3 separate regions of the Homo sapiens genome follow, and all the other regions are linked to region 1. Evidence: fine-mapped expression QTL. A gene starts in region 1. Each other region holds a variant in brackets. All regions are shown on one strand. Distances are from middle to middle.

Region 1 (4,164 bases):
CAGAGAAGGGCTGGGCAGTTTCACTGGCGGAGTTGTGGGTGGTGGTCAGTTTCCCAATGGGGGACTGTAAGTTTTATAGAGGGGGCTGGTCAATTTCACAAAGGCAAGTCGATTTCATCTTCCCCAATGCAGAGAGCCGACCCTTCTCCAGGCCTAATGCTAGACGCCCCCCGCCCTGTTCCTCTGACGCGTACGTTACTTCCGGCCGGGGGTCCCAGCCTTTTCAAACCTCAAGGTTTGCGCTCCTCCTGGGGACAGAGGACCAGAAGGAAGGCCGGCCTCAGGGACCTGCGCACTGCATCCAGGCTCGGGGTGGCGGTTTGGGCCTCAAGACCACCGTCTCCTCTTCACCCCGGGGATGCGTCCCAGACTGAGTTCTGACCAGAGTGGCCCTCCAGGGAGGATGCACTTTTCCCCACCAAGCGTCCTGGCACCGGAGGGGTGGGGGGACCGACAAGCGCTAGAGGCACACGGGTAAGGGGGCTCCCACCTGCTCCAGGCCGTTCTCCGAGACCTTTCTGCGGGGGGGCCAGATCACCACCAACTTTCCGTCGCCCCTGCTCGCTGCGGGGGAAGGGGCGCTCAGCTCACCAGCTGGCGGCAGCCAGGATGAAAGGCCGGCCGCACCCCTTAAACACACACAGGCGTTCACCCTCCGCCTCCCCATGAAAGCCTCCATTCAACTCCAGGCACCCAGGAACCCGAGGGAGGAGGGAGGTGAACCCAGAATGGAGAAGCAGGAGCCCGAAAATTCAGAGGGAGGACCCAGGAGTGCCAGAACCCAGTCAGGGTTCCCTGGAACCCGACAAAAAGGAAGACATCTGGAATGCCCCCACCCCCGCGCAGCCTGGGTGGTGTGGATCAGAGAGTCCATCACTCCCGGTGGAGGGGTGGATCACAGCGAGTAATGGAGCTCCAGAAGGGGTAGGCAAGAGACAAAATTGAGAGGGGGTCTGGGAGCTTGGAGGGAGAGACCCCGAGAATCGGAGGGCCACAGGAGGGGCCACTGAAGTTGGGCAATCGGTGGGGGCGGCTGGAACCCTGGGGGTCCCGGCGTTGCTACGCCCGCGGCTTACCGGTGAGGCTCGGCGTAGGCTCCTTGAACTCCGCGGTGCCATAGACGCTGCGCCGCTGGCGCTGCAGTTCCTGCTCGCGCTCGCGCACGGCGCGCACCTCCTGCTCCAGCAGTGACGGAGTGAAAGGCGGCGGGGCGCTGCCCAGCACCCGGCACCCGCCCTGCACGGCCGAGCGCGGCCGTCCCCCAGGCTCTGGCAGCCTCTGCGGGCCCGCGCCGTCCCCCGCCCCCGCCGAGGAGCCGCTCCCCGCCGCGGCCTCGAAGAAGCGCTTGAGTTCGCCCAGCGGCTGCGGCGGCGACCGGGCGCGCGGCTCGGGGACCGCGGGGCGCGCCAGCGCCGCCTGCCGGTGGGCCTCCCGCTCGATGTCCCGCTGCATCTGCGCGCCCGCCCGCGCCCGCTCCAGGGCGCGCGGGAGCGCGGGGCCAGGACCCGGCAGGTTGAGCACCGGCCGCACGCGCAGCTCGACGAGTTCACGGCCTGCGCGGCCCGGGCTCAGGCCCCGGCTCCGGCGCAGGCTCTCCTCGCGTTCGCAGCTGCGGCGGATTTCGCGCTCGATGGGCGTCTCCATGAACCGCTCCTCCGGGGGACGCTGGGGAGCCTCGGGGCACGGCGGAAAACGCAGGTGGGGGGCTTCCGAGCCTGACCTGGAGGAGGAGGTCTTAGGGCCTGGAGGGGGATGCTGCCCCTGGACCTCCGCCCTTTGCGCTTCGGACGGCCCAGGGTCGTCTCTGCCTGGCTCAGGACTCTCAAAGCCCGCAGCTGTGGACAGCCCGGGGCTCTCTGCGTCCTGCTCGACTGATGGCTCGAGGACTTCGCTCTCTTGCTCCAGGATCTCCACGTCCTTTGCGGAGGGCTTGGGGACCTCGGTGTTCAGCTCCGCAGCAGCTCTGGGGCTTCGCTGTCTGGCCCTGGGGACTCCTGGCCCTCCTCTTCAGACGACCCCAGGGTTTCGTTCTCCGGCCGGTGGGGGCCTTCGTGTCCAGGGTTGGAAGCAGTTCGGAAGCCTCAGTTCCCAACCGGGGTTTTGATTCCCAGAGCGAGGACAGAGGGCACTGTGAGGCACCTGTGGCGGCAGTGGCGGCCGTGGGTTCCAAGGCGTCGCCCGCACCGGCGGCTTCTCTGACCCGCCTCTGGCCTCCAGGAACGGCCCCCGGGGGCAGGGCCGGGCACCGCCCCCGGCACCTGCCAGGAGGACTCCCGCCCCGCCCTGGCCCCGCCCTCGGGACAGGGGCGCCTCGGTGGGGCACTCAGTTTCATCAACTAGCGCGCCCAGTCACCTCAGGGCACGGGACTTCTTGGAAGAGGGCTTCCCTAGACCCGGCCCCGCTCTCTGGGGGGCCATTCTGGGTGCTGGGTTCTACTGAGCGCACCCTGGCACTTTTTCAGAGCCATGTCCCCGTCATCGTCCCGGAGACTGGGCCCAGCAGCGCGTCGGACTGGGGTTCTGAACCACTAGCCGCTTGGTGAGGTGTCCCCCGAAGCCGTATTTTCGGGACCCGGGCAGTCCCGCTTGGTCGTGCCAGCCGGCAGGCAGCGACTCCTCAGGCCCCTGGGCCCTCCCTCCGATCCAGCCTTGCAGCGCACAGCTCCGGCCCGAGGGGGCGCCAGGAGCCGCCTTACTGGCCGCTGGGGTCTCCCTACCAATGCTTGGGCTCAGCGAGGTTCCCAGCCGCGCACCACTGCCCCCACGCCAAGCCGAGAAGCGGCTTCCCCTCTCCTCCCGGAAAAATCCGGGAGGTGTCCGCTGCCAAGGGCACTCCCGGATTGAGGGAGGAGGGAGAGACGGACACAGTGCGCCGTGGGCGCAGCTTAGCGGTTGCAGTTGAAAGGCGGTCACCTTGGGCCCGGGCGCCTGGGGAGGCCCAGACAGGAAACAGGAGGCGTCCAGGGTAGGGGGAAAGAGCAGCTGGGGCCGGATCATGCGGTTCAAGGGCAGGATCGATGCCCTTGCGCGGGCCACCCTCCCCTAGGGACGTTTTCCACTTTCCCCCTAATGGAAGCAGACTCTTCCCAGAACCTGCCCCCAACCCCACCATTCTGGGGTGCCCAGAAGGAAAAATACAGTTACCGGCCGGGCATGGAGGCTCATGCCCGTGATGCCAGCACTTTGAGAGGCCGAGGCGGGAGGATCACCTGAGGTCAGCAGTTCGAAACCAGCCTGGCCAGCATGGCCAAACCCCGTCTCTACTAAAAATACAAAAAAAAAATTAGCCAGGCCTGGTGGTGGGCGCCTGTAATCCCAGCTACTCGGGAAGCTGAGGTGGGAGAATCACTTGAACCTGGGAGGTGGAGGTTACAGTGAGCCAAGATCGCGCCACTGCACTCTAGCCTAGGCAGCAAGAGCAAAACTCTGTCTCAAAATAAATAAATAAATAAATAAATAAATAAGCTGTATACTTCTGGGAAAAAGTTTTCTCTATAGCACCTTCCCCACTGCATCATCTCCTGGTCCTTCCTCCAGCCATGCCAACTGGGCTGGGTTCTTGGCCCCCTTTCACGGGAACATTTTTTTCTTTTTCTTTTTCTTTTCTTTCTTTCTTTTTTTTTTCTTTTTTTTTTTTTTTTTTTTTTTTGCCGGTCTCAGTCTTTAATCGTGGCAGGGCCTTACGCACGCGCACACATACACACACTCAGGCTTCAGATCTTGTTGAAAGCTGCGATATCGACACTCTGCACGTGCTCCTCAAATTTAGTGATCTCCTCCTCCAGCAAGTAAGTCCCCACCTTGTCGTCCTCCACCACACACTGAATCTGTAGCTTCCGGATACCGTAGCCCACGGGCATCAGCTTGGAGGTCCCCCAGACCAGCCCGTCCAGCTCGATAGAGCGCACACAGGCCTCCAGCTGGGCCATGTCCGTCTCATCGTCCCAAGGCTTGACATCCAGCAGGATGGAGGACTTGGCCACTAATGCAGGCTTCTTGGCCTTCTCCGCGTACTGCCGTAGCCGCTCCTCCCGCAGCTGTGCCGCCTCCTTGTCCTCCTCCTCATTGTCGCTGCCAAACAGGTCGATGTCATCATCCTCGTCATCCTCTGCTGGTGAGGCTGGCTTCTTGGCCGGGGACTCCACTTGGCGCATAGGAGACACG
Region 2 (4,164 bases), 870 kb after region 1:
ATCACACCACTGCACTCCAGCCTGGGTGACAGAGCAAAACCCTGTTCCAAAAAAAAAAGAGAGAGAGGGAGACAGAGAGTTATTTTAGGAAGGTTTGTTTATGTAGACTCATCTTGGGACTGACTATCTGCAGTGATAGGAGTCATTCTGCTCTCCCTGGTAAGGAGACGGGGGGATACCTCCACAAAGGAAAATTTATGTCACCTTTTTTTTTGAAACGGAGTCGCACTCTGTTGCCCAGGCTGGAGTGCAGTGGTGCAATCTTGGCTCACTGCAAGCTCTGCCTCCTGGGATCACGCCATTCTCCTGCCTCAGCCTCCTGAGTAGCTGGAACTATAGGTGCCCGCCACCATGCCCAGCTAATTTTTTTGTATTTTTAGTAGAGACAGGGTTTCACCGTGTTAGCCAGGATGGTCTTGATCTCCTGACCTTGTGATCTGCCCGCCTCGGCCTCCCAAAGTGCTGGGATTACAGGAGTGAGCCACCACGCCCAGCCTTATGTCACCTTCTTAAAGAGAAGTTTATGCCTGGCTTTGAGGCAGAAAAGTAGAGAGCAGAGAATTCTTTCTGCCTCTACTGATTTTTTTTTTTTTTTTTTTTTTTTGAGACAGAGTCTCGCTCTGTTGCCCAGGCTGGATTGTAGTGTCAGGATCTCGACTCACTGCAACCTCCACCTCCCAGGTTCAAGGGATTCTTGTGCCTCAGCCTCCCGAGTAGCTGGGACTATAGGTTCCCACCACCATGCCCAGCTAATTTTTTATATTTTCAGTAGAGACAAGGTTTCACCATATTGGCCAGGATGGTCTCCAACTCCTGACCTCAGGTGATCCACCCACCTCGGCCTCCCAAAGTGCTGGGATTATAGGCGTCAGCCACCGCGCCTGGCCATCTACTGATTTTCTATTGCATTCAGCTCAGAATAATTCTTATGCTAAAGTTGATAGATAGATACATAGATAGATACATAGATAGATAGATAGATAGATAGATAGATAGATAGATAGATAATAGATTGTTTGTTTGTTTGTTTGAGACAGGGTCTTGCTCTGTCACCCAGGCTGGAGGGCAGTGGTGCAATCTCGGCTCACTGCAACCTCAGCCTCGCAGCCTCGAGCCATCCTCCCACCTCAGCCTCCCAAGTAGCTGGGACCACAGGTGGATGCCACCATATGCCTGGTGAATTTTTTGTATTTTTGGTAGAGATGGAGTTTTGCCATGTTGCCCAGGCTGGTCTCGAACTCCCGAGCTCAAATGATCCACTCACCTCCACCTCCCAGAGTGCTGGATTACAGGCGTGAGTCACTGTGCCCGGTCTCTAAGTGATATATTTTTAAGAGTAACATATCCTGATCCCCTTCAGCTGCCGTCAGAGAACTGGGGTGGGGACGTGGAAGGGTGACATCGCTCTGCTGGAGGACTTGTGAGAGAGCCCAGACTGTGCAGGGGGCCCAGCCAGAGCACCCCAGCTTCCAGGACTGGAACCCCAGCCTCAGGAACTCAGGGCAACGCTGGGGTGAAGGCTCAACTTTAGGGAAATACCCGGAAGCAGAGAGGATGGGGTCAGGACACCCAGCCAGGAAGCTGCATTTATTTCACTGTGCATTGGAGAAAGCCCCACCAGCCCAGCAAAGCCAGTCTCTTACAGATACCAATGATTAAAGTGATAAAACAGGGCCGGGCACGGTGGCTCACGCCTGTAATCCCAGCACTTTGGAAGCCTGAGGCAGGCAGATCATGGAGGTCAGGAGTTTGAGAACAGCCTGGCCAACATGGCAAAACCCCGTCTCTACTGTACAAAAATTAGACAGGGGAGGTGGCGTGCACCTGTAGTCCCAGCTACTCAGGAGGCCAAGGCAGGAGAATCACTTGAACCCTGGAGGTTGCAGTGAGCCAAGATCACACCACTGCACTCCAGCCTGGGCGATGGAGAGAGGCTCTGTCTCAAAAAAATAAATAAATTTAAAAAACTGGGCCAGGCACAGAGGCTCACGCCTATAATCCCAGCACTTTGGAAGGCCGAGGCGAGCAGATCACCTGAGGTCGGGAGTTCCAGACCAGCCTGACCAACGTGGAGAAACCCCATCTCTACTAAAAATACAAAGTTAGCTGGGTGTGGTGGTGCATGCCTGTAATCCCAGCTACTCGGGAGGCTGAGGCAGGACAATCGCTTGAACCCGGGAGGCGGAGGTTGCAGTGAGCCGAGATCGCACCACTGTACTCCAGCCTGGGTGA[C/T]GGAGCAAGGCTCTTTCTCAAAAAAAAAATTTAAAAGAAGTGATAAAACAGGCCAGGTGCAGTGGCTCATGCCTATAATCCAATATTTTGGGAGGCTGAGGTGGGAGGATCACCTGAGCCCAGGAGGTTGAAGCTTCAGTGAGCTGTCATCACACCACTGTACTCCAGCCTGGGTGACAGAGCGAAACCCTATCTCAAAAAAAAAAAAAAAGATAAAATGTTTCAAGTTAAAAAAAAAAAAAAAGTGGCCAGGCGCAGTGGCTGATGCCTGTAATCCCAGCACTTTGGGAGGCCGAGGCAGGTAGATCACAAGGTCAGGAGTTCGAGACCAGCCTAGCCAACATGGTGAAACCCCGTCTCTACTAAAAAATACAGAAATTAGCCAGGTGTGGCAGCGGGTGCCTGTAATCCCACCTACTCAGGAGACTGAGGCAGGAGAATCGCTTGAACACGGGAGGCAGAGGTTGCAGTGAGACAAGATTGCACCACTGCACTCCAGCCTGGGTGACAGAGCCTCCAGTCTGGGAGATAGAGCAAGGCATCATCTCAAAAAAAAAAAAAAAAAAAAAAAATTAAAGAAGTCAGGTGTGGTAGCAAGCACCTGTAGTCCCAGCTAAGGCTAAGGCGAGAGGATCACTTGAGCCCAGGAGTTTGAGAGCAGACTGGGCAACCTAGCAAGAACCCATCTCAAAAAAAAATTAAAGAAATAGGAGTTGGGCCAGGCATGGTGGCTCATGCCTGTAATCCCAGCACTTCGGGAGGCCGAGGTGGGTGCATCACCTGAGGTCAGGAGTTCAAGACCAGCCTGGACAACATGATGAAACCCCATCTCTACTAAAAATACAAAAATCAGCCAGGTGTGGTAGCGGGCACCTGTAATCCCAGCTACTCAGGAGGCTGAGGCAGGAGAATTGGCTTGAACCTGGGAAGCGGAGGTCGTAGTGAGCCGAGATCATGCCACTGCACTCCAGCCTGGGAGACAGAGGGAAACTCCGTCTCAAAAAAATAAAATAAAATAAAAAATTAAAGAAATAGGAGTTGTATTAGTCTCTTCCTGTGGCTGCTGTAATAAATTATCACAGGCTGGGTGGCTTACAATAGCAGACATTTGGCTGGGCACAGTGGTTTACACACATAATCCCAGCACTCTGGGAGGCCGAGGCAGGCGGATCACCTGAGATCAGGAGTTCAAGACCAGCATGGCCAACATGGAGAAACCCCTTCTCTACTAAAAATACAAAAATAAATAAATAAATAACCAGGCATTGTGGCAGACACCTGTAGTCCCAGCTACTCAGGAGGCTGAGACAAGAGAATCGCTTGAACCTGGGAGACGGAGGCTGCAGTGAGCCAAGATCGCATCATCGCCCTCCAGCCTGGGCAACAAGAGCGAACCTCTGTCTCAAAAAAAAAAAAAGTCAGGGCTGGGCGTGGTGGCTCAAGCCTGTAATCCCAGCACTCTAGGAGGCCGAGGCAGGTGGATCACAAGGTCAGCAGTTCGAGACCAGCCTGACCAACATGGTGAAACCCCGTCTCTACTAAAAATACAAAAAAAAATACCTGAGCATGGTGGTGGGCGCCTGTAATCCCAGTGACTTGGGAGGCTGAGGCAGGAGAATCACTTGAGACTGGAAGGTGGAGGTTGCAGTGAGCCAACATTGCGCCACTGCACACTAGCCTGGGCAACAAGAGCAAAACTCCGTCTCAAAAAAAAAAAAAAAAATCCTATCCTTGGACTTCCCTGCCTCCAGAAATGTGAGCTACACGTTTCTGTCGTTCATGAATCCCCCAGTCTACGATATTTTGTTATAGCAGTCCAAACAGACTAAAGCAGATGCTATTCAACCCACATCAGTAACACAAGCGATAAAGGAGGTGCAGACTGTGTCCGCAAATGACCCGGCATCGTGGGATACAGCTAGCCGAGGAAGC
Region 3 (4,164 bases), 180 kb after region 1:
GGATATATAATATATATAGTATATATTTAATAAATATATATCATATATAAATATATAATATAATACAAGGATATAATGTTTATAATATATTAATATATCATAAATATATAATTTAAATAATATATTTTATAATTATAAATATGCAATATGTAAATACATTATAATTATATATTTTATATGTATGTATATATTAAATATGAATATGTATGTATTTTATATATGATATATAATATATATTAATTTTTTTTTGAGACAGAGTCTCGCTCTGTCAACCAGGCTGGAGTGCAGTAGCGCAATCTCAGCTCACTGCAACTTCCGCCTACCAGGTTCAAGCGATTCTCCTGCCTCAGCCTCCCAAGTAGCTGGGACTATAGGTGGGTGCCACCATGCCCGGCTAATTTTTGTATTTTCAGTAGAGACGGGGTTTTGCCATGTTGGCCAGGCTGGTCTTGAACTCCTGACCTTAGGTGATCCACCCGCCTCGGCCTCCCAAAGTGCTGGGATTATAGGCGTGAGCCACTGCGCTATATATACAAAGATGTCAATAAGCATCTTTAGCCTCTTAAATGCCAGAAGAAGACACATCGCAATTGCTTTCAGTGATGGGGAAGTTAGTGCAGAAATGCAAGGGGCCAGGACGTGGCCAAAGCATCACCTCTTCAGCACCCGGTGGCTGTGAGTCCCAGTTTTCCCAGGATGGCTATTTTGCAGATGTCTCAGCACATTAGAATGGTACATAATTTAGTCTTGTCTGCCCTTGGTGGTGTGCATTTATCCAGTCATGGATAATTTATTTATTGAGCACCAACAGTGTACAAGATGCTCTTACAGGCACTTGGGACCCCGCAGAGAGTGAAATGGATTCGGCCCCTTCTCGCGTGCAGCCTGGTTGTAGTGGGGGAGACCTGAGTTGTCAGCCATGAGCAGTGGCTGTATCCCCCACCCCTTCATCTTCCTCTGTCTCTAAAACAGGAGAGGGACTCTGTCCTCCAAAACCCCTAAAGAACCCAAGGCTAGGAGACTTCTATGGGGACCCCCAGAGTTCCATGTTGGGCTGTTTACATCACCCTGAGGAGCCAGAGGGCAAATTGGGACCTGTTCCCTCTACACAGCAGCACGGGGAGGAACCAGGAAAGGCCGTCTCCAGGTAGGTGGCTCTGAACATTCCGGCAGGTCTCCCCACTGACAGTCCACATAGCACAGCAGCTCAGCAGACAGCAATGCTTTGGGAAAGAGACCCACAACCTATCTAGTGCTGTGACCCACTCCCTCCCAGAGCTCAGGGCCCTCGGATCTCGCTTCTCCTAGCTTTCCTCGCTGGTAAGAAGGGTTGATGTTTTAGCCGGGCATGGTGGCTAATGCCTGTAATCCCAACACTTTGGGAGGCCGAGGGGGGAAGATCACTTGAGGTCACGAGTTTGAGACAAGACTGGCCAACACTGCAAAACCCCGTCTCTACTAAAAATACAAAAATTAGCTGGGTGTGGTGGCGCACCTGTAATCCCAGATACTCAGGAGGCTAAGGCAGGAGAATCGACTGAACCCAGGAGGCAGAGGTTGCAGTAAGCTGAGATCATGCCACTACGCTCCAGCCTGGGCAACAGCGAGACTCCATCTAAAAAAAGAAAAAAAAGTTTTAACTGTGGGCAAAGATAACATTGCATTTTTCAGGGTTACAGAACTCATATTCTGTCTGCTGGTCAAACCCATCCT[T/C]CTTCCACATTCCTCCTCTTCCTTAATCAAGAAGGGAACAAAGGAATTGTTGTTATGTGAGCTAACGACCAATAAAAAAAGAAAAGCAATCAGGGCTGAGTGCAGTGGCTCATGCCTATAATCCCAGCACACTGGGAGGCTGAGGCAAGAGGATCGCTTGAGCCCAGGAGTTCAAGAGGAGCCTGTGTAACATAACAAGGATGACCCCATATCTACAAGAAATAAAATAATTAGCCAAAACAAAACGATATACATATCCTTATTTATTTATTTATTTATTTGAGACAGGGTCTTTCTCTGTCACCCAGGCTGGAGTGCAGTGGCACAATCTCGGCTCACTGCAACCTCCACCTCCCGGGTTCAAGCGATTCTCCTGCCTCAGCCTCCTGAGTAGCTGGGATGAAAGGCGCCCGCCACCACACCCAACTAATTTTTGTATTTTTAGTAGAGACGGGGTTTCACCATGTTGGCCAGGCTGGTCTCGAACTCCTGACTTAAGGTGATCCGCCCGCCTCGGCCTCCCAAAGTGCTGGGATTACAGGCGTGAGCCACCACGCCTGGCCCTTATTTATTTAAATATAACCCTAAGTTTCACTAGTTTTTAAAGACACTATGTTTCTTGCATCCACAATTTCCTTTCCCTAGAATGTGCCGTGTCAGGGCTGGAGTGTCCGTCCAAATGAGAATATCCCTATTCCCAGTTCAGAAGGCAATTCCTGGGATTATAAATGTAACAAAGTCACCTGTTAAGGCAGTGTATTCTCCAGGTGGGACTCTGCACCCTCCTTGACAGTTAAATGTTCTCAGGTCACTGCTTCTCCATCCCCATCCCACTCTTTCAAAGCAGGTTTTCCAGGGCCTTCCATCTAGCAGACATTTTTTTTTTTTTGAGATAGGGTCTTGCTCTGTCACCCAGGCTGGAGTGCAGTGGCGTGATCATAGCTCATTGCAGCCTGAACTCCCCTGGCTCAGATGATCGTGACATTTCAGCCTCTCAAGTAGCTGGGGCCACAGGCACACATCACCACGTCCAGCTAATTTTTAAATTTTTTGTAGAAAAGGGGTCTCACTATGTTGCTCAGGCTGGTCTCAAACTCCTGGGCATCCACCCACCTCAGCTTCCCACAGTGCTGGGATTAAAGGGATGAGCCACCACGCCCAGCCTAGGAGACTCTTAGCACTGGTTTCCTGTTGGATTTTGTTTTGCGTTTGTCTCGATAGGTGAGTGACAACCTAGGAGGATTTCAGATCCCCCTCGTTTGTTTGTTTTTGACACAGAACCTTGTTCTCTCACCTAGGCTGGAATGCAGTAGCACAATCTTGGCTCACTGCAAACACCATCTCCTGAGTTCAAGCCATTCTGCCTCAGCCTCCCAAGTAGCTGGGATTACAGGCGTGCGCCACCACATCCAGCTAATTTTTGTATTTTTAGTAGAGATACGGTTTCACCATGTTCCCCAGGTTGGTCTCGAACTCCTGGCCTCGGTGATCTGCCCGCCTCAGCCGCCCAAAGTGCTGCAATTACAGGTGTGAGCCACCGCACCCGGGCAGATCTCCTTCAGTTTTATCTTTTCCTACATAGCTCCCCTGATGAGGAAACAGGATCTCCCTGCCGGCTCCTCCGTCAACCAGAAAAGGAGCCAGCTCCCCTTCCTCCTTCCCAGGTGAGCTCGTCCTGTGGCCTCGTGGATATAGAAGCACCACTGCCTCCCTTAAAGTTCCGGCTCTGTGTCTCCCTTCTTTGTCACCAATTGCTCACTCATGGTCTACAGGGGCTGGAGGGAATGTGCCCAGAGGGCAAGGGTGGAGTTCTCTCAAGGCTACAAGAAAGGAGCAGGTTTGGGGTTGCTTTTTTCCTAAGACCTCATTCCTCTCTTATCTTTATTGCTGCTTTGTTCTTGTATCCGGTTTACAGAACTCATTCGGGAGGTTTGTTCCCCAGTTTGCAAAATCCAGGAAGACAGTGACAAGAAAAGAAGAGATGAAGGATGAGGACCGTGGGAGTGGGGCCTTTAGCCTGGTAAGGCTCTAAAATCAGCCAGGCTGAGCCCAGCGCAGGTGCAGCCTCCTGGCCCAGCCTCGGCAGCCCCATTTAACCCTGGAGTTCTTTGGCAATGGTGAGGCCTGCACCTCTCCACCCACCGTTTTCAGTACATTGCGCTATGGATGTGTGTTGACTATGCAACAATTCTTTATTTTATTTTTTTTCTTTTTTTTGAGACAGAGTTTCACTCTTGTCACCCAGGCTGGAGTGCGATGGTGCCATCTTGGCACACTGCAACCTCTGCCCCACTGGGTTCAAGCAATTCTCCCGCCTCAGCCTCCCAAGTAGCTGGGATAACAGACGCCTGCCCACCGCGCCCAGCTAATTTTTGTATTTTTAGTAGAGACGGGGTTTTACCATGTTGGCCAGCCTGGTCTTGAACTCCTGACCTCAGGTGATCTGCCCGC

Which allele goes with the higher level. Alleles are on the strand shown, and positions count from the first base shown. SD is a standard deviation of normalised expression in the study named. Not every link is listed here.
In carriers of allele C in region 2, the expression in CD4 T cells of the gene that starts at base 2,168 in region 1 tends to be lower than with T alone (large effect, 1.1 SD a copy in BLUEPRINT).

Evidence for each region. PIP is the estimated chance that this variant, and not a neighbour inherited with it, causes the effect.
Region 2: its variant is the best candidate, but not a certain one, in a credible set for the expression of MISP3 in CD4 T cells (BLUEPRINT, PIP 0.79).
Region 3: its variant is the best candidate, but not a certain one, in a credible set for the expression of MISP3 in testis (GTEx, PIP 0.84).

What each region holds. Positions count from the first base shown.
Region 1 is chr19:14,070,790-14,074,953 of GRCh38, reverse strand. It overlaps MISP3 (MISP family member 3), which reads right to left and starts at 2,168. Exons shown (of 3, transcript NM_001291291.2): 1 at 1,077-2,168; 2 at 491-564; 3 at 1-248. The coding sequence starts at 1,644. The coding sequence ends at 231. MIR1199 (microRNA 1199) reads right to left here and starts at 1,593; the gene lies at 1,475-1,593. It also overlaps the pseudogene EEF1DP1. RefSeq lists an enhancer at 492-1,012 and silencers at 1,200-1,609, 2,180-2,349.
Region 2 is chr19:13,199,124-13,203,287 of GRCh38, reverse strand. No RefSeq gene overlaps it. Among named protein-coding and RNA genes, the nearest start is that of IER2, 51 kb to the right of the region's middle. RefSeq lists a silencer at 17-217. The variant C/T (reference allele first, on the strand shown) is at 2,233.
Region 3 is chr19:13,892,355-13,896,518 of GRCh38, reverse strand. It overlaps BRME1 (break repair meiotic recombinase recruitment factor 1), which reads left to right. Exons shown (of 9, transcript NM_001345843.2): 3 at 973-1,147; 4 at 3,296-3,377; 5 at 3,629-3,733. Among named protein-coding and RNA genes, the nearest start is that of BRME1, 12 kb to the left of the region's middle. The variant T/C (reference allele first, on the strand shown) is at 1,714.